Linked DNA regions of Homo sapiens. The protein of the gene in region 3 interacts with the protein of the main gene of each other region in a pairwise test. Each region holds a gene or a part of one and is shown on either strand. Other genes may lie near its edges.

The links. Proteins that work in one complex are often made in the same cells at the same time.
Region 1: the proteins of CISD2 (region 3) and HHATL interact in binary tests that used the Homo sapiens proteins (3 or more experiments, as listed by UniProt).
Region 2: the proteins of CISD2 (region 3) and MAN2B2 interact in binary tests that used the Homo sapiens proteins (3 or more experiments, as listed by UniProt).

Annotation. Positions count from the first base shown.
Region 1 is NC_000003.12:42,692,799-42,699,798, forward strand, and holds part of HHATL (protein-cysteine N-palmitoyltransferase HHAT-like protein), read right to left. Parts: coding exon 6,960-7,000; intron 6,348-6,959; coding exon 6,234-6,347; intron 6,105-6,233; coding exon 5,910-6,104; intron 5,554-5,909; coding exon 5,344-5,553; intron 4,882-5,343; coding exon 4,710-4,881; intron 4,348-4,709; coding exon 4,203-4,347; intron 4,080-4,202; coding exon 4,044-4,079; intron 1,047-4,043; coding exon of another isoform or gene 1,021-1,046; coding exon 819-1,020; intron 421-818; coding exon 279-420; intron 78-278; coding exon 1-77.
Region 2 is NC_000004.12:6,571,243-6,578,188, forward strand, and holds the start of MAN2B2 (epididymis-specific alpha-mannosidase isoform 1 precursor), read left to right. Parts: upstream 1-3,946; 5' UTR 3,947-3,968; coding exon 3,969-4,106; intron 4,107-5,335; coding exon 5,336-5,482; intron 5,483-6,946.
Region 3 is NC_000004.12:102,878,936-102,886,039, reverse strand, and holds part of CISD2 (CDGSH iron-sulfur domain-containing protein 2), read right to left. Parts: intron 992-7,104; exon of another isoform or gene 825-991; coding exon 610-824; intron 1-609. UniProt on the Homo sapiens protein: Regulator of autophagy that contributes to antagonize BECN1-mediated cellular autophagy at the endoplasmic reticulum.

The DNA.
Region 1 (7,000 bases), on a different chromosome or scaffold from region 3:
GGTTCGCTCACGCTCCTTTACCAGCTGGACGCCACAGTAGGTGACAAACAGGATGGACAGCGTGGTCTGGGGGAACCCTGTGTGGGGAGGGAGTCATAGATGCTCAGGAGCAGCACTGCATCCTCAGCGACTTTTGTCTTCCCACCCCTCTCCCCGCTTGATGGGCCCTCCCTTCTGAGTCCCAGGGGTGATGAGGGAGATAGGAGGCATTTTGGAAGGTCACGGTCCTTGAGGCTGATGCCTGGCACCTTCTGTATCCCCACACCCCTGTCCCTCACCTGTGAGTAGCAGGCGCCGGGCAACCAGCTCTGTGAATTTGAGGCTGTTCAGGCTCACAAGGTTGTACATGATGATGGCCCAGAAGTTCATGGCTCCAAACAGGGCCCGGACCCTACGGGACATCTGCACTGACAGAGAGGCCTATCCGGTCCAGGAAAGCATGGGCAGCGGGACAAGAGGCCAAAGGAAAGAGGACATGGTGGGTCAGCAGCCTTACCCACCTGGCCAGTCAGGTCTTGGGGCTATGTCTGGGTCTCGGAGAGCCCCAGGTCAGCTCTCCCTCCTTGTTAAACATGGGGAAACAGGTCCAGAGAGAGGACAAGGCCTGACCAACATGGCAAGGCCCAGGTGCTCCATTCCTCATAGAAGGGAGGGAGGGGCAGATTCCTACAGAGTGAGCCATTGCTCTGACAACTAAGAGGGTGGTGGTGAGAAAGTTCTGGATTAGGGGCCAGGTGTTTGGACAACTCCAGAAAGCAGCAGTGCCCCCCCGCCCTCTATGACCCAGCCAGTCCCAGCCCCAGGTCTTCCCTGCTCACCTCAATTCGTGCTAGGGGCCCCCACTCTGCCAGTTTTTGCATCCAGAGCTCAAAGTTGAGGCCAAAGCAGTTAAGGAATGACCACAGGTAGACAATGTCACAAGGCCCAAGCCACAGTGTGGTGATGGCAAATGTGGCCACTGTGGCTGCCAGCTCTGGGATCACAGCGGAATGCTCCCCACCAATGTGGTTATACACATATCTGCAGGAAAGATGGGAGAAGGGCCACTGGGAGTGTGGGAAAGGGCAGGGATGAGATGGGAGAGGACACACAACAGGGCGTCCTCCTCAACACTGTCACCCTGGGTGCATTCAACATTCCTGACCTCACGTAGCAGCTCCTCCTCCAACCAACTTCAAATTGTGGCAGGCTCAGCCTGGGACATTATAGCTTCTCTATCTCTGTTCGTTTACTTCCCAAATGATCTCATCCAGACCCAAGATTTCAAGTACTAGCTCTATGACGATGACCCCTAAATCTGTGTCTTTAGCCCAGTCTCTCCTGATTTGTATATGCAATTGCTACTAGCCATGTCACTTGATTGACAGATTCCCCTATCCCTGCTCAAACCCAGCTCCGTCCTCATCTCAGTGAATGGCACCACCATCCATTCAGTTGCTCAGGGTATAAGCCTTGGTGCCATCTTGGATTCTCAGTTTGCCTCATCACCCACATCCAAGCAAGCCAGCAAATTCTGTTGGCTCCTCTCAGTCCTGACCACCACTCACCTCCTCTACCACCACCACCCTAGTCAAGATGATCACTCTTCTCACATAAATTATTGCAAGAGCCTCTTAAGTGGTCTTCTTGTTTCTGCTTTTGCCCCCATGGTTCATTCTCCACACAGCAGCCAGAGGCATCTTTTAAGAGTGTAGCTCAGGTCACATCACTTCCATGATTAACCTCTCTGAATAGCTCCCCATTACAATAGGAATAAACTCAGTCTCTTTACTCTGGCTAGAAGATCCCAAGTGGTCTGGTTTCTGTTCCCTTCCTGACCAAATCAGCCACCATGCTCCCCCAGTTCATCATGCTGGCCTCACTGGCCTTTCTTACCTTTACACCCACACAGTTGGTTTGTGTCTCAAGGCCTTTGCCCTTGTTGTTCCCTCTACCTGGTATTCTCTGCTCCACATCTCCTTATCACTCAAATCTCAATTCAAATATCATCTCCTCAGAGAAGCCTGCCTAGACCCCGACTAAAGAAGCTTCTACCCTGTTGTCAACTTCTATCCCATTGCAATTTTATTTTCTTCATAACACTTACCACTCTCTAAAATTATCTTATTTATGTTTGTTTACCTGTTTATGGTCTGTTTCTCCCCACTAGACTGTAAGCTCCATGAGTTCAGGGTCTTTGCCATGTTCACTGCTGTATCCCCAGTGCCTAGAACAATGCCTGGCACATAGGTGCTCAATAAATATTTGTTAAATAAGTTCTGTGGAAGACCCAGGAATAACCAGCCTCTCCATTCCTCGACCTCCTCATTTCCAATGGCTTTTTCTCCACTCCACCTCAGCCACCCACACCCATGGCCATGCCCCAACTTTGTCACCACTTGAAAGTTCACTCCTTTCTAATTCCCATTCTTTGCCCAACTCCTCTTGACCTCCTGGCCCCCCAGCTTCAGTTCTTCAATCCCATTGATCTTGTGACCCTCCCACCTTCACCACCGTCCTTAGCAGGCTTATATCCAATGAGTCATGACTATAAATAATCTAAAAACCCTTATTCCTGACTTCTTCCTTGTCATCCATCTGGGAGAGCCCAATCACTTACTTTCTCCTCAGCTACACCCAGGCAGCTAAGCCCCATGGGGGAAATCTCACATCTTCACATGCTGGAGTTCATAAGCCCACCACCTCCAATACCACCTGGGTACTCAGTGCCAAGATTTCTCTAGTCAGCTGCTTCTCCCTTGCTCTGCAAGGGCCACTGTATTCTTATCTCCCCACAAGTATGAGTGGAGAGATAGTATGAGTGGGGGGATCCAGGCTGGGTTGTGGGGGTAAGCATATATGTTGCCTCTCTCCACGTCCCTGTCCTGGCTTTCTCAGCTGATGGCCGTGCCTCCTGCTTCATGGACAAGGCTGAAGCCTTCAGGTGGAATCCCTTACTTGTCTACATTAACCTGCTTTCCTCTGCATCCACACTGGCTTCTCTTCCTCCTCCTCCCACTGAAGCCAGGCCTCCGCCTGGAACTAGACACCCTCACCTCCTTCCTCTTCAGGGACCTCACTCCATCAATCACCCCTGTATCCTGCATCCCCAGCTTCTCTGTTGAATAATTCTTCTTAGCATGTCCCATTCTCTCCTATCTTTAACACATCCCTCTTCTCCCTCAGCCACTCCTGTCTTCCCCCTGCAGTCCCAGGCTTCTTCCAGGAGTCATCACACACTTCTCTACTCCTCAGTTGACTTTCCCTCCTTACCTGCTCCTGCCTTGCCCATGAAAGGCTGAAAACCTCCATGTCACCAGCACTAATCCTCGGTCTCCAGCTTCCTTGAGGCTCAGTGGCATCTGACCAAGCTGTCCCCACCATGCCTGGATGGTCTTCCCTTGGCTTCCAGGGTGGCACATGACCTTGATTCTTCTCCTGCCCCTCCAACTACTCTTTCCAGTCCTTTCTGCTGGCTCCTTTTCCTTCCAAGCAGAGCTCTTGCAGGCTGAATCTCGGCCATCCCCGTCTCTCCTCTTCTCACACCACTCCCTCTCCTGAGGACTTACCCACTCCCAAAGCCTAAAAACCACCTGCCCACACTCAGGACGCTCTGAGTTCCATCAGTCCTCTGGACCCTCAGAAACCCAGACCCTCAGACCCAACCACCTCCCTGAACCTCCACAGGGATGTCTCCTAGATTGCGACTATACATTTCTTAAACTGAAGCCCTCTCTGGAAACTGCCCTCCATCCTCCCAGGCTGCAGACAGCAATTTGAGCGTCATCTCCTTCTCCTTCCCAACACCCACAGTTCATGGCCACGTCCTGTTCAGGCTGCTGACTGTGTGACCCTCCTCCCACCACCTCTCTCCACCTCGAGGGCCCTCACTTAAATCCTAACTTCTATATCTTTCACCCAGACCTCTGCCAATACCTCCTCACTGCCCTCTTTGCTTCCCCTGGCCCAGGGGTGATCTTTTAAAATGTGGACCCATCTTGGCACTGCCCTGCTCAGACACCTGGCAGGATGGCTGTGACCACCCCCACCCCACTCCTACTCACTTGCAAAGCCAGTCGTTGATGCCACGGTCAAAGTGCCTGTAAGAGGAAAGCAGATGGGCATGTTGCCATCAGGCGCAGAGCTCCCCAGGCATGGGGGAAGAGGCTAGGGGAAGGTGTGGTCCCAGGGGGTGAGCCTCCCCCGTCCTGGCCAGCACTCACGTTTCCGCAAAGACGTAGAGTGCGGTGATGCACTTGGGAGGCTGGGGTGGGTCCAGGTGGTCGAGGCATGCCACAGTGTTGACAACACCAAAGAGGACGGCCGCCTTCACCCAGTCATACACCAGGTTTGAATAGGCTAGGCCAGCTGGGGGCAGGGCACTGTCACTGCCTGGGGTCCAATCGCCTGGGGCCTGCCCCCATGAAGACCCTGTCCCACCACTTCCTTGGGGAGACACCAGGCTCTGCCCGCCCCACGGAGACCCCCCCATATTGTGGAAATCAGTCATGCCTGGTGAAGTGGGTGGGGTCCGTGGGATGCTGCTCTGGCCCCACAGGATGAAGCTAATGCCAAGACCCATGCATTAGAAAGAATAAGCCCCTGCTCCCACGCCCTCAGGTGCTGTGCCCTGCGTGCCTCAGCTCCCCTGACTGTGGCACCGTGGGGGTGCAGAGGGTCTGTTTTCCTGGGGCGGCAGCCCTGCCCCCATTTCTCTTCTGTGGACCCACCGAGGGCACTGTCTGGGAGGCGGTTGGCGAACTTGAGGTCGCTGGGGATAGTGAGGATGTAGAAGAAGTGAAAGAAGATGTCGACGGCCATGATGGCCACCACGCTTAGGCCTGCCTGGGCTCGGATGTGCCACAGCTCACCCTCGCGTCTCACTGGCTCCACCTGGCTCACCTGGGGGGATGCGAAGGGTCTGAGGGAAGAGGCAAGCCCTGCCTGGGGAGCCCTGTCTGAGGGGGGCTCACCAACTACTTGGGGCAGGAGGAGCCATGGCTTTATCCAGGAGTCCTGCCTGAGGGTGGAGACAGAGGTCACCCTGGAGTCTGAGGAGGATTCACAGCCAGCCATGGGAGACCCAGTTCTGTCCTGGGAGCCCCATTTGAGTGGGAAGGGAACATTCGTGGCCTGGGAGTCCTGTCTGAGAAAAGAGACATGTCTCCACCCTGGGGTCCCTGCTGGAGGGGAAAGGTGGCCCCATCCTGGGGTCTGAGGAGGGAGGGGAGACACGGCTTCATCCTGGAATCATGCCTGAGGATGGGGATACAGCCTGCTTGGGGAATTCTATCTGAGATGGAAACCCCAATCTGAAAAGGGAGATTCAGCCCTGTTCTAGAAGCCCACAGGGTGTCCCCTCACCTGAGCATGGAAGCGATCAAAGGTCATGATGGGCCCGAAGAAGAAGAAGGGCAGGTAGAAGTTGTACTTGAGCAGGTCAGCTAAGGAGTAGTGGCGGTCAGGGTGGGCACAGCTCTCCAGTGCAAAGCTGGTGCAACGCAGCACTGTGAAGCTGCTGCCCCCATGAAACAGCACCTCTTGAAGATCAAAAGTGCCTGTTACAAACCCGCTCTGGAGGGGGAAAGAACAGGCCACCAGCTCACTAGGGTGCCTCCTGTCTCTGGAAAACCTATTCCCCACTCCCTAGCTTCCCACAGGGGCCCAGCCTGGTCCTGTCCCTTCCTCTCTTCCAGAGCCAGTTAACTTTGGCCACTGCTCTATCCCAGCAATGCGAGGAGCAGGGGATGATCTGGATAGTTCCTCCTGTGATGCAGGTGCTCACCTTGTGGCCAGGACATACCCAAAGGCTTGAAGACAGGTGGAAAGTGAAGGGAATACTTGGGGATACTTGGGGTGCAAGGACTTTGGATGAAGTGAGAGGTTTGGGATCTTATCCCTACACCCTCTACCCCTGCACCAGTTCACACCTGCCAAGAGATTAGGGGGTCCATCTTGAAGGAGGCCAGGCTGGCCAAGCCAAGGCCAAGACAGAGCCAGGGCTGGCCCAAAAGCGAGGCCACATAGAGGCCCACACAGTGACCAAGCAGCAGCAGCAGGTACCAAGGGCCCATTGTGCCCATCACAGCCAAGGCCCCGTACACAGCATACATCCAGGAGCGGAGCTGTGGGCAGGGAGAAGGCTTCAGTTTCGCCATATAAATGGGGGCGTGACCCCAGGAGGGGGTTCCCACAACCCTTGTGGTGAAAGAGGAGCTGGCAGGGAGAGGCTGGGTGGCCCAGGTCCAGCTCACCTTTGGGGCAACCATCGTGCAGAGTTTAGCAAACAGCACATGTCCGGAGAGGGCAAAGATGATGACGTTGCGAAAGGAGGTGAACCACATCACCCACTCGAAGTCAGCCACATCCTGGGGCAGTCCGGGGCAGAAGGAGGTGGGGCAGGTGAGGGTGGGAGAGGGGACAGGACGAGCTGGAACCTGGGCTGGTCAGAGCCCCAGCACCTTTCCCAGCCTTCATGTTCTTCTTTTATTATTATCATTTTTAAATTTAATAATAATAATTATTTTTTACCACTAGCCAAACCCAACGTGTCCTCTTTATGCAAACACAAGAGCAGTGCCTGCAGGTCTCCACACTCCTCTGTGAAGGAAGTACCGAGGCAGGAGGGTAGAGAGGAGTGAAGGGCACCATGGGGGCTGCCGGGTCGCTTGAAGCTCCCCCTCTCCTCCGCACGTTGCCTGCCATTCCCCCTTTACTGCTTTGTTTCTGGGAAGGAGGTGCTGGAGGCTCCACTGAAGCACACTCCACTAATGCGACCTATTTCCCAAGTGAGCAGGGCCCGGGCAAACTTGATGTCCCAGGAGGATACAGGAGGGGCCAGTAAAGAAGCTGAAGGCACTGAAGCTCAAGCCAGAGGCCCCAGAGCTGTGAGAAGCTCTCTGTTACTTGCCAACATCTGGAACAGCAGAGAGCAGAGAAGGGTTCGGGATGGGAGGGACCCTGGGATGTGGGGGACCTACCATCTTCCGGCCAATGTACTCCCAGCCAGGTCGCACAGACT
Region 2 (6,946 bases), about 96 Mb from region 3:
ACACCAGTCACGCCAGGCTACTCATGTCAAGACACCAGTAGGCAGGGGAAGAGTCACCCATCGAGCAGGGGCAGTTGACCTGAACCATCAGAGGAGGTAGGGTTGCTGTCACACAATGGAAGCAGAGAAGACTGTGTGCCACCCACATGGGTGTCCCTCAGGACTCTTTCACCTGATGTAGTCAGCAAATAGGCAAGTGAGCAGCTATGGCTCAAGAAGGGAATGGTCACCAGGGGCTCATCCTCGTTGGTGAGGATCTGGGGCAACCCACCAGGTAAGCTATCTAGTCCAGCATGGGTCTAGCTGAGGGTGAAAGGGATCTGAATGAATAATCCAGGAGGGGGTTGTGAGTATCACCTTCAAGCCTGAGACTAGCTGCAGCAAGAGCTCACGCAAGAGCCTTGAGGAAAGTACAAATGAAACCCTACACAGCTGTGATACAGTGGGCAGGAGAGAAAATGACATGAGGTCTCACATGTTGTTGTAGTCAGATGGGGGGCTGGAGCTGAAACAGCATGGTGATCTTGAGCTGCTCCCTGTGGTCTGCCCCATGTGGGCTGGTTGGGCTTCCTCACAGCATGGTGGCCTCAGGGTAGTTGGACTGCTGACAGGGCAACTCAGGCCTCCAGGCACGAGTGCTCCAGTGAACATGGATGTCATGGAAGTCACACAGTACAACTTTCACTACATTCTCTTTGTAACAAGTGTGTCACAAGCCCGCCCATGGGCCAGGCACAGTGGCTTATGCATGTAATCCCAACACTTTCGGAGAATCCCTTGAGGCTAGGAGTTTGAGACCAGCCTGGGCAACATAGAGAGATCTTGTCTACAAAAAAGAAAAGAAAAATTAGTTGGGCATGGTGGCATACACCTATAATTTCAGCACTTTGTGAGATGGTGGTGGGAGGATGCCTCGAGCCCAGGAGTTCAAGATCAGCCTGGGCAACATAACGGGATATTATATCTAAAAAAAAAAGAAAAAAAAAAGTTTTCATTAGCCAGGCATGATGGCACATACCTGTGGTCTCAGCTACTCAGGAGGCTGAAACAGGGGGATCACGTGAGCCTAGGAGTTTGAGGCTGAAGTAAGTTAGGAGTCCACCACTGCACTCTGGCCTGGGCAACAGAGCAAGACTCTATCTCTAAAAAACACAAAAATTAATAAAATAAAAAACAATAAATAAACAAGATTCAATGAGAGGAGACATAGACCCTATCTCCTAATAGGAAGAATGTCAAGATCATATTGTAAATCAAAAATAAAATTATAAGCCCCAGCTGAGAGAATGGACCCCCTGTCGGCCAAGGGGACCCCAAAGAAACCCAAAAAACTAGTTCAGGCCATGATGGGAAGTGGGAGGTCACACATGCCTCATCATAGCCTCCTCCCTTTAAGTTTCGGCACAGCTGACCAGCATTAACATTAACATAGAGATCCTCCTAAGACTGACAGAACACTTTTGTAGCAATCAGATACCCGATTCTAACATGACTCTGGTATAGCAACACACGACAGAGAGCAGGCCCTAAAGGAAATCAAAGTATTTTACCCCAAAATAAATTTTCTTTGACATATTTTGAAATGGACTTGCAAAGTCATCTCTTGTGGGGGAAACTTGCATTCTGTAGAGAATCTCCTTACTTACTAGCTCTTTTCCAGAGAGTCTGATACCTTTTAAGGTCCCCAGAGACATGCACATCTATTCTCTCTGAAGCCTGCTAACTGGAGGCTTCATCTATGTAACAAGAACCTTAGCTTCCACATCCCCATTGTCTTAACTCAAGCATTTCTTTCTGCCGACTCCAACTCTTCAGGTAAAGCTTAACTCTTTTAACCAATTGCCAATCAGGAAATCTTTGAATCCTCCTCTGACCTGGAAGCACCACCCACCCACTTCAAGATGTCCCACCTTTCTGGGCCAAACCAATGTATACTTTACATATATTGATTCATGTCTTTGCCTGTAACTTCTGTCCCCATAAAATGTATAAAGCTATAGCCCAACCACCTTGGGCACCTGTTCTCAGGACCTCCTGAGGCTGTGTCACAGGCCATGGTCACTCCTATTTGGCTTAGAATAAACGTTCTGAGATATTTTAGAGTGTGGCTTTTCTCGTCAACCAAATTCTACAAAGAGCTTGGGGGGTGGGTAATGTTGTGGAGCCCATCTTTGGCAGATACAGTCTGCCAAAGATTGTGACACTGCCTTATCGATAAACTCAGTGGCTTAACACAATTAAAGCTTATTTCTCCCTCTTGTCACAGCTCTTTGGGTTCCTCATGGTTCCATGTGGTTCTTCAGAGCCTCCATTGGTGGCTCTAACCTCCCTGAGGTCCTCGGAGTGCCCTCCACTGGAGCAGTGGGTGAGTAAGAGAGCAGGGCTCACCCACAGGAGGTTGTTAGGGGCCAGCCTGGAAGAGGAGCACAGTGCCCGCCCCCACCCATCCCATTGACTAGCACTTAGCCACGTGGCCGCACCTGGTTGCAGAGGCTGGAGAGTGGAGCCCAGCTGTGAGCCTGGCCGGTCATGGGGACATGTGTTAGTGAGTACTGTCCACGTCAGGCTCAGACCATCTGACCTGAGGCTATGGGGATGCAGGGGTCCCCAGGGGGTGGACAGGACAGAAGGAGGAGGGAGACCTGCTTGGAGAACCTGTTCTCAGTTTCCATTTGTTACATAATGGACAAGAGGACCAGCACTTTTGCTCAGAGCTGCAGCTCTGGTTCCGCTAGGAAATGCCAGGCAGGGGCACAGCCAAGTGGTTCTCAGACAGTAAACCCCAAGCCACAGACCCTTGCTTTCTTGGGCAGGGAGTAGTGGACAGGGCTGACTCCAGGCAACAGTCCCAAACAGGCTGCACCAATGTGACCGCACCTCCCCTGAGTGCAGGCAAGGGGTGCTGTGCTCACGCTCTCAGCCTGGGTGCATCCTTACTTTGTTCACAGCTCCTCTATCGGACCCATTTCACTGAGGCTCAGCGAGGTTACCTATGTCGCCCCAGGTCACCATCCAGTAACCCAGAAAGCTTCTCTTGGCTCCTCCACTAACTGCGTGATCTTGGACAAGTCAGTTACTGTCTCTGAAAGCCAGTTCTCCTCCTTAAAATGGAGACAGTTGAGCCAGGCATGCTGGTTTATGCCTGTAATCCCAGCACTTTGAGAGGCGGAGGCAGGAGGATCGCTTGAGCTCAGGAGTTTGGGACCAGCCTGGGCAACATAGTGAGGCCCCCATCTCTATAAATTTTTTTTTTAATTAGCTGGGTGTGGCAGTGTGCCCCTGTGGTCCCAGCTACTCAGGAGGCTGAGGTGGGAGGATCACTTGGGCCCGGGAGGTCAAGGCTGCAGTGAGCCCTGATCGCGCCACTGCACTCCGGCCTGGGAGACAGAGTGAGATCCTGTCCAAAAAAAAAAAAAGGAGACAGTCCCATAACAAGCCCCCCATGGCGCCGCCCAGATGGGGTTTCGACGCCAGGGAGAGGAGGGAAAGGGTTATCAGGGAAGGTTCCTGGTGGCAGAGCTCACAGGGTCCGTGCTGAGCCGAATTTTGCACGGTAGCCTCAGAGTCCCGGAGCCGAGTCCAGAGGGCGGGATGCAGGTATTGCGAAGAGGCACACGCTCCGAGAGGAACCACCAGAGCGTGGGCTTTGGGCGAGGAGGGGTCTCCTCTGGTTGGGGGAGATCTGGCAGGCTTGGGGGAGATGGGGCTGAAAGGATGGACAGGGAGGGAAGGCCAGAAAGCTGGAGACGGGGATGGAGAGCTAAACCGCAAAGAGCAGGCGCCCTGCCCCGCTGAGGGCCCCGCGCCTCCAGCTCCTCCTTCCCGAGCTTCCCGGGGTCGGCGTCCAGCCGGCAACCAATGGGCCCCGCCCCCGCCCGCAGCCAATGGGCCGCGTCCCCGCCCGCGCGGCCGCCCCGCCCCTCGCGGACCCGGAAGTGGGCCTGGCACCTTCCCGGCCTGCCGCAGGGATGGGGCAGCTGTGCTGGCTGCCGCTGCTGGCACCGCTCCTGTTGCTGCGACCGCCAGGGGTCCAGTCCGCCGGCCCCATCCGGGCCTTCGTGGTGCCCCACAGCCACATGGACGTGGGCTGGGTCTACACTGTGCAGGTAGGTGCCGACCACGCCCCGCGCGCCCCTGAGGCTGCAGCTTCCCTCTCCCCGCGGGATCTGAGTGTGGGTTTGCGTCCCGGGGCCCGATGCCGGCGCAGAAGGAGGCTCAGTGGGTTCAGGACCCCACGCTGCCATTGACTGGTTGCGTCGCTAACTTCGGGCCAGTCACTTCCTGCCTCTGAACCCCCATTTCCCCTTCTGGAGGGTGGTGCAGATTGGAGGGACCCCTGCATTCCCGGCTGGGGAGGGGCTTGGGGGTTGACAGTGGTAACCCATTTTCCAGGGAAGCCTGGAGCAGGAGAGGGTGGGGCTGGCTTCAGAGCAGGTGGATGTCAGGTGCCCGCTGGGAAGGGGCCGGGCTGGTCCCCTGCGGGGCTGAATATTGGAGGCCAGCTCAGCGTCCTCCGCCCCCCAGGACAGGGGTGAAGGTGGACCTGTGGTCACCTCCTGGTTCTGCTCAGGACCTTGGGCGAGGGGCTTTGGTCCCTAAGCCTCAGTTTCCCCATCTGTAAAGGGTAGGGGAAGCATGCCCACTACAGCCAGTTTCCAGAGGAGAAAACCGAGGCCCAGAGAGGGTTGCTGCCTTGCCCAAGGTCGCTCGGGAATAACCCTCATGCCTCCTGACTCCCTGCTCGGTGCTCCTTCCATTCATGTAAGCACTCTGTGGGCACCCTGTGTGCAGGGCCCTCGGGACTCGGATGGGAACACACTACAGCTGTGGTCCTTGGAGCTCCCAGCCTTGGGGAGGCAGACGCCTAGACGCCAGGGACAGCCTGGGGAGCTCTTCCTCTCAGCACCAGCTTTCCTCATTTCAGCCCCAGCAGGCCCCTTTGGGGTCACTGGACCACACCCCGACTGAGGCCTAAGACTTTCCTGTGCTGCCCCTCAATGGCACACTCAGGGCCCAGCCCCCCAAATTGCACACTCAAGGCCCAGCTTGCTCACCCCTCTGAGAAACTGTCCCTGACCCCTGGGCTGGGAGGGCACCTGTCTCTGCCCATGTAGGGTGTCTGTTTCCCCGTCCCTCTCCCCCAGGAGAGCACGATCCCATCCAGTGGGGAGAGCCTGGTATGGAGCGAGTGCCTAATAGCTGTGTGGGGGGTGAGCAGCAGGGAAGGAAGGGCAGAGCCCCCAACCCCATGCAGACACACCTGGCGAATGGCAGGGGCCCCAGGGACACTTGGTCTTGTTGGACCGGGGCTGGCATGATGCTGTCCCCTCCCCAGGAAAGCATGCGGGCGTACGCCGCCAATGTCTACACCTCAGTGGTGGAAGAGCTGGCCCGCGGCCAGCAGCGCCGGTTCATCGCTGTGGAGCAGGAGTTTTTCCGGCTGTGGTGGGATGGCGTCGCCTCGGACCAGCAGAAATACCAGGTAATGAGGTCACCAGGTGACACAGTTGGCCCAGTATCCTGGCAAAGACCCAGGTGGAAAACTCAATGGGGCAGTTCTAGCCAGGGCCAGGGCCAGGCTGGCATAAACCACAGGGCCAAAACCCCACCGGGCTATTCACAGCCTTGTTTAGATCAAGGTTCACGGTGAGTTCCATGCCTGGGAGAGATTGCTTTCAATTTAATCCTGAATTTCTGTCTATTCTTGAAAAAACTGCCAGCTCTGGCAACCCAGCTGTGCACTTCCGTGCCAGCTGGCACTAAGTCAGCAGTGCCCCCTGACACCAGGCATCCCAGGTGTCCCCAAGCCCTCACCCTCTTCTCTCATTTGTGTTATCTGCCTGGCCCCCGGGCCCAGGGTCTGGTGACCCTTGATGAGGGTGCGATAGTCCCTGTGGTTTGAGGGTAGGCAGCAGGTTGCTTCATACAGCATGGAGAGTCAGAGTCCCCGCTGCACAGTGAGGCAGCCTGGGTCCCATCCTGCTCCCGCACCAGGGGACACGACTAGCCCCTGCGAGCCACAGATTCCACTTCTATTAAACGGGGGTGACCGCCCCATTGCAGAAAAGTCATGCCAAGAATGAAGCCCTGGCGTGAGCACCCAGGACGATACTCGGGGGTTCTTAGTTTCCTCCCAGGTATCCACCTGCCTTCAGAATAGTTGCTGAACATAAAGTTCAGGGACGCCAAGTGACTTGCTCAAGGGAGTGAAGCGGAGAAGGGAGAGCAGGGCGTCCACCAGGCCCCGCCAGAGTCACGGGAAGGAGCCGGACATCCAATGGCCACTTGATGCTGCCAGATAGTGGGGTTCTTACCTCAAGTTAAAGAGACATTCCAGGTTCAGAGAGGGCACGCCACTGGCCTGCAGTCACACAGCTTGTAAGCGGCAGGTGGGATTCTGAGCCAGGCATGCCTGACTCGAGGCAGGCCTTTCCAGGATATCCTGTGAGCGTCCCATGCTTCTTCAGGTGGACCCCACCAAACCCAGTGGTCTGTCTCCTAGCCCTCAAAGAGAAGCATGGCCTGCATGGCCCAGTGAAGACCTGGACAGGAAACTTGTGGCAGAGCTCCCTGGAGGCAGGAATTGTTGCCTGCTTCATTCACTGCTGAACCCCCAGTGCCTGAACAGTGCTGGTTGTGTAGTAGGTGCTCACTTAACATTTGTTGAGTGAATGATCTACATATAGTGCACCTTAAGAAACAAACCAAAGGCACAGCCTATAAACAGCTGTGTGTACACATACTGAGGTGTGTAGTGTCTAGGGCAACAAAGGTGTTATGTGTGTAGAGACGGGGATGTTAAGCAAATAGGTTAAAAATGGTAGTGATGAGTGAACCTTGGGAAAGGATATGGGAGCTCTTTGTTCTATTCCTGAAACTTTTCTAAAGTTTAGAATTAGTTAATAAAATAAGATTTAAGAAAATCTTATATATACAAATATATATC
Region 3 (7,104 bases):
AATACTGTATTAAAAACCTCAAATAATCTATGATCAAGTACAAGAAACAGATTTTGTCAACTACTTATAGTACTTATCACTCCAAACTCCTTCCCACATTAAAAATCATCTATAATTGAGGCTATCATTTACTACCTCATATTATTAAAGCAGTTTACATATATCATCTCACTTCTCAAAGATATGTAATGTGGATGTATCAGGTTAAAACAAACCCTGAAGATTAGAGATTAAAAATTAAGTAACTTGTCCAACCAAACTCATACTGTGACAAGTATATTTGACCACTATTTACTATGACACCAAAGCTTTTTTCCATTAAACCTTAGGTCCTCTCTCAAAGAATGTGTATTTTAAAATACATGTTACTCTACATAAATGCCAAACATTGCGAAGGCATTAGATTTTTATTCTTCTTTGCTGCTCCAACTTTTCTAATGTAGGTAGTATCTATCATGACATGAAAACTTCAATTTAGGAATATGGTCTTTCAATACCAAATATTACAGAAAATTCTCTCATCTTAAAGAACTTCAAAACTGGGGATTTAAGAGGCGAAACAATCCTAGCACTGCAAAATTTTAGTGTACACGTAAACAGACATCTTACCGTTTTAGAACGCCAACACCTACAATAAGCTGCTTTAGTAAGACACAAATCTTCAATGTTTATTTCATTCACTACTTTCGGATTTTCCTTTTGTATTTTAAGATTAATCAAGCTATCCTTCTGTTGTTTCTTCTTCGGGAGGAATGGACGAACTGCAAGGTAGCCAAGAAGTGCGAGTACACCAAGGAAAGGCAATAACCGAAGCCATTCTGAAACTAAACATGTAGATGTGTCAGAATCTGCAGTGCTCTTGGAAAAGAATTCAAAATAGCATGTCTAGTTTCATCCTTGAGCTTATTCTTTGTTACTTTTTACATTAATTCCTTTTTAATGGATCCATAAAACTGTGAATAAATAACACAATAAAGCCAGCTCTACCAAAGACCACCTTACTTTATTTATAATTTGAGACCAGTGAAACTAGAAACCTAACTTTTCAGAAATAGGTTCCATTTCAAATATCCTATCTCATTGTCTACATCAAGTCTATTTGTGTTTGTCTATTTTTATTTTAGGAGTTATGATCACTATAACTATAAACAAAATTCAATGTATATTTTATAAGTTAAGAAAACATTTTATCTCCTTAATACTATGTCAAAATCATACAACAGAATATCTGCAGAATTTTTACCACTGATTCATAATATCAGAGAGAACATGTCCTCTGATGCTTTAAGGTACATTTTTGGTAAATGTTGCTAAAGAACACTGAAATTTTGTGTAAAAGCTACTATTTTAAAGAACAAATTGAAACCTTCTATGTTGAATGTTCTCATTTTAAGATATATCTAATTCCATAAACTTCATTTAAAGCCTTTTGGAGTACCTAGCCTGTCTTAAGGGGACAGGGAATATAAGTGATACAAATGAAACAGTCCCTATGCATGTGGACACAAAAATACCAGGAAACCAAGATAAACATTTCAACATACATTTATCAAATGTCTGCTAGCACCCTGCCTCTGCTGGGCTCTTTTCTGTTCTTATAGAATTACCAGTTAACTTCCTTCACTGAATGCCGAATCTGATACCTTGCTAGGCACTATGTGGAAATAGCTTAGTTGAGAAAAGAGAAAAACAGAAAATAATATGCTAACTCATGCTAATAAACATTAAAGATAAATGAACAGGTTATGCTAAGAGTATAAGGGCACTAGCTCATTTAACACTATGTTAGCTTAAACAACTATATGTGGTAGGTATCATTATTATCCCCATTTTACATGTGAGAAAACTGTAGCCTAAGCAGGTTTAGTCCAGGACACCCTAAATCCAAAGCCTGTTGTCAGTTATCATGAATCAAACCCAATAGATCTAAAATTAAAATCTGTGCCTATCTTGGTAAAACTACTCTCAGGAGATAATAGTACTATTTAACTATTGAAAGAAAGACAATATGAACTCTTCCAAAATGGAATTATTTTTGATATAACATCATGCCAAAGAAATCTAAATGAAAAAACCTATTTATCTACCATTTTCATAGATAGCACCTATAAGAGTGGCTGGCAAAAAAGACACAATAAATGGTAGCTTTTATTCAGAGATTATAGAGATTGGTGAGGAAGTACTAGCAACTCCTTTGAAAAAAATATTTTGCCAAATAACTTGACAATGCTATATGGGCAAAAATCTTCAGGAATATAATCTTGTAGTTACCAGAATAAAACTCTGTAAAAGTATGAACTTTGTCTGCCATGCTGGCTGTTACATTCTCATAACCAAAGTGGAGACACTCCAAATAGGTTCTTTGAGTGAATTAAAGCTCTGGAGATAACACAGAACTGTTTTTGCGGGGAGAAGGAGGCCTAGGTATAAGATCTGTGCTATTCAATATGGGCACCACTAGCCATACTGTTTAGATTTGTACCCAACAGACTTGTAGAAACTGTCTTGAAATAACAGTTTATTACTTATAGTTCCCAAGAGGAGAGGATACACTATGCAATGCAGGGCCACATGAGAGGTACTAGGGTTGATCAGGAGGAAGAAAGAGGAAAGGGAAAAAGCATGGGCACAGGCCTTTACTGTGGTTTCCATGGAAAAGGCAAGGCAGGAAACTGTTCAGGACTGGCTAGCTTGAATAATTTCAGTGGGTTCTGGGCAAAAGTAGTGGTCCCTAGTCGTCTCCTACCTGTCCCTGGGGTGACTTAGGGCAGGAGAAATATTGACTGGAGAAATACTGACTTCATGTGTAAGGGTTAGATAAAGGAGGTGGTTGGGGGCATGGGCTTTGGATTGGTTGGTTTGCATATGAAAGGCATGCTCACAGGCAAGTTATTTAGTATCTCTAGGAATTAAATTGTCTCCACAGCCAACAAGGCTCCTAAGATATTAAAGCATAATAAAATACAGAAAATTGAAAACACGGTTAATATACACATGTGGGCGTGGTGGCTCATGCCTATAATCCCAACACTTTGGGAGGCTGAGGAGGGCAGATCACGAGGTTAGGAGTTCAAGACCAGCCTGGCCAACATGGCGAAACCCCGTCTCTAATAAAAATACAAAAAATTATCCAGGCGTGGTGGCAGGCGCCTGTAATTCCAGCTACCTGGGAGGCTGAGGCAGGAGAATCGCTTGAATTCAGGAGGCAGGGGTTGCAGTGAGCCGAGATCATGCCATTGCACTCCAGCCTGGGTGACAAGAGCAAGACTCTGTCTCAAAAACAAAACAAAACAAAACAAACACATGTGGCTATTCACATGTAAATAAATTAAAATTAAGTAAAATGTAAAATGCTGTTTCTAAGACACACTGGTAACCTTTCAGAGGCTCAATAGCTAGCTACATGTGACTACTGACTACCATATTGAACAGTACAGAGAACATTTCCATTACCACAAAGTTTTACTGGACAATGCTACTATAGATCATTGGCTCTATAAGGTGCCATCTCCAAAGAATGGCAAGGCTACCTTTCCAGCTTCAACTTCCACAAACATGGTCTCTTCATGTACCTGAGGCCAGCGAAAGCTACTGTCTAGTAAGCAGCCTTTTTGAGTTCTTTGCATATGGAGTTCCTTCTGTTTTATCTGACTAATTATCTTAGCTTGCAATTGGCCCCAGCATCCAGTATGTAACTCGAAATAGCAGTCATTAAATGTTTGTTCAATGTAGAATAACATTAAGTATTATTGTACATATTACAATATTTTAGAAGTCATAAGAGCTTAAATTTATCAAAAAGCGAGTGAATGGGAACGCAAAGATGAAAATCTTATTTATTTATTTTTGAGACAGGGTTTCACTTCCATTGCCCAGGCTGGAGTGCAGTGGTGTGCTCTTGGTCACTACCACCTCCACCTCCCGGGCACAAGCTATCCTCCTGCCTCAGCCTCCCAAGTAACTAAAACTGCAGGAGCACACCACAACGTCTGGCTAATTTTTGTATTTTTAGTAGAGATGGGGTTTCACCATGTTGGCCAGGCTGGTCTCAAACTCCTGACCTCAAGTGATCCGCCTGCCTCAGCCCCACGAAGTCCTGGGATTACAGGTGTGAGCCACCATGCCTGGTTGAAAACCTTAATGTTAGACTCTTAAATATAGCATTTCCTATCTTAACCCACAAACCTCAAGAACAAATGGTATTACTACTGTTTTAAAATCCACTTCAGAAAATATTCTTTTGAACACTTAATTCCTTGGTAAAACACTATGCTTAAAAATACAGTGATGAGAGGTACTATTACCTCCTACAACAAAGTAATAACTTACCAAAGTCTTAACATAATCTACTTTTTAAAGATAACCAACTACAATTTAACTACTGAAAAACTTTATACATGAAAGCAATACAGCTTGAAAAGCTCAATTCAAATGACTGTAAGTACATTTATTCAGGCTGTTTTTGTACTGATACATAATAACTGTACATATTTATGGGGTACAAGTGATATTTTGCTACATGCATACATGCATATGATGTGCAATGATCAACTCAGTGTAACTGGGATATTCGTCACCTCATTTATCATTTATTTATATTGAGAACATTCCAAATTTTCTCTCCTATTTTGAAATATACACTAAAATTACTGATAACAATAGTCACCCTATTATGCTATTGAATACTAGAACTTTTTCTATATAACCGTACTATAGTGCCCATTAACCAACCTCTCTTCATTCTCTCCCTCCCTACCCTTCCTGGCCTCTGGTAACTACCATTTGACTATCTCCATGAGATCAACTTTTTTAGTTCCCACATATGAATGAGTACATAGAATATTTCTCTGTCAATTAAGGCTGATTTTATATGAAGAAAGATAAAATACAGAAGAATCAAACAAGAAACTTAAAAAAAATTTTACATGTGCTAGTCTCTATAGATCTGTTTGATATATGTTCAGCTATTACAGATATTTTAGATACTTTGAAAGGAAAATATTACTAACTGTAAATAATGTGCAAAAAAAATTTTTTTTTTTTTTTTTTGAGACAGCGTCTCGCTCTGTTTCCCAGGCTGGAGTGTGTGTCGTGTTAGCTCACTGCAATCTCCACTGCCCGGGTTCAAGCGATTCTCGTGCCTCAGTGACCTCCCGAGTAGCTGGGATTATAGGCGCACGCCACCACACCCAGCTAATTTTTGTATTTTAGTAGAGATGGGGTTTCACCGTGTTGGTCAGGTTGGTCTCAAGCTCCTGACCTCAGGTGATCCACCCACCTTGGCCTCTCAAAGTGCTGGGATTACAGGCGTGAGCCACCGTGCCTGACCAAATAAAATAATTTAAAATATATTTTTTTTTTAATGAGATAGTCTCACTCTGTCACCCAGGCTGATGTGCAGTGGCATGATCTTGGCTCACTGCAACCTCTGCCTCCCAGGTTCAAGTGATTCTTGTGCCTCCGCCACCCAAATAGCTGGGATTATGGACGTGCGCCACCACACCAAGCAAATTTTTGTATAAAATAATGTATTTTATTCAGCATATTATTTATTTTTGTCTTAGGATTATAAAAAATAACATTTATGTATTTATTTGGTAAATGTATCTCTTTTTTGGTATGTAAATACATAGGCTGTAAATGCTTAAAAAATAAGGCTATATTGCATTTTTCACTTAATGGTATGTCAGATTATTATATTATTTCCCCAACTCCTTAATATCAGTTGGAAACATAAATTTTAATGGCTGCATCTACCTATCATGTTCCCCACTCACAATATAAGAGATACAAGGGGGCTGGGCGTGGTGGCTTACGCCTGTAATTCCAGCACTAAGGGAGGCTGAGGTGGGCAGATCACTTGAGGTCAGGAGTTCGTGACCAGCCTGGCCAACATGGTGAAATCCCAACTCTACTAAAAATACAGAAAATTAGCTGGGCATGGTGGCACACGCCTGTAATCCCAGCTACTCAGGAGGCTGAGGCAGGAGAATCACTTAAATCCCGGAAGTGGAGGTGGCAGTGAGGTAAGATCTCACCACTGCACTCCAGCCTGGGAGACAGAGAAGAGACTCTATCTCAAAAAAATAAAAAAAATAAAAAATAAAAGAAAAAGAGAGATACAAGGGCAGGGACCTTATTTGTCTGATCATCTGTGTCCCCAGTGTCTATATAACGTCTGGCTCAATTTATTTAACTTACTTTTGTTTGAAGTGTTTAATTTACAGTTCAGTTTATTGAGCTTTGTGCTTTTTGTTTGTTTGTTTTTGAGATGGAGTCTCGCTCTGTCGCCCAAGCTGGAGTGCAGTGGCATGATCTTGGCTCACTGCAACCTCTGCCTCCCGGGTTCAAGCGATTCTCCTGCCTCAGCCTTCTGAGTCACTAGGATTACAGGTGCCTGCCAAAACGCCCTGCTAATTTTTATATTTTTAGTAGAGATGGGGTTTCACCATGTTGGCCAGGCTGGTCTCAAACTCCCATCTGCCTGCCTCAGCCTCCCAAAGTGCTGAGATTACAGGCATTAGCCACCGCACCTGGCCAAGCTTTGTGTTTGTGAAGCGCTCAGTTTGATGAGTTTTGTAACTATATGGACCTATAAACACCACCTAAGACAAAATACATTTCCATTGCCCCAGAAAGTTTGCTCTTGTAGTACTTTCCCAATCAATCCCCCCCTTCTGATTTTTATTAAGTGCTTACTAAACATTTTCTGAAAGAATAAATCAATTTCTCATTGTTAAACAAATTTTTACTATATAATTATTACTATAAAAATTAAATATTTACTATATAATTATTAAGTATCTACTAATATGGTTTGGCTCTGTGTCCCCATCCAAATCTCATCTCAAATTGTAATCCCATAATCCCCACGTCAAGGGAGGAACCTGGTGGTTGGTGATTAAATCATCAAGGCAATCTCCCCCATGCTGTTCTCCTGATAGTGAGTTCTCATGAGATCTGGTTTTAAAATGGGCTCTTCCTGCTTTGCTCTTCACTCTTCTCTCCTGCCTCGTGAAAAAGGTGCCCCTTCCACCATAATTGTAAGTTTCCTGAGGCCTCCCTAGTCATGCGTAACTGTGAGTCAATTAAACTTATTTCTTT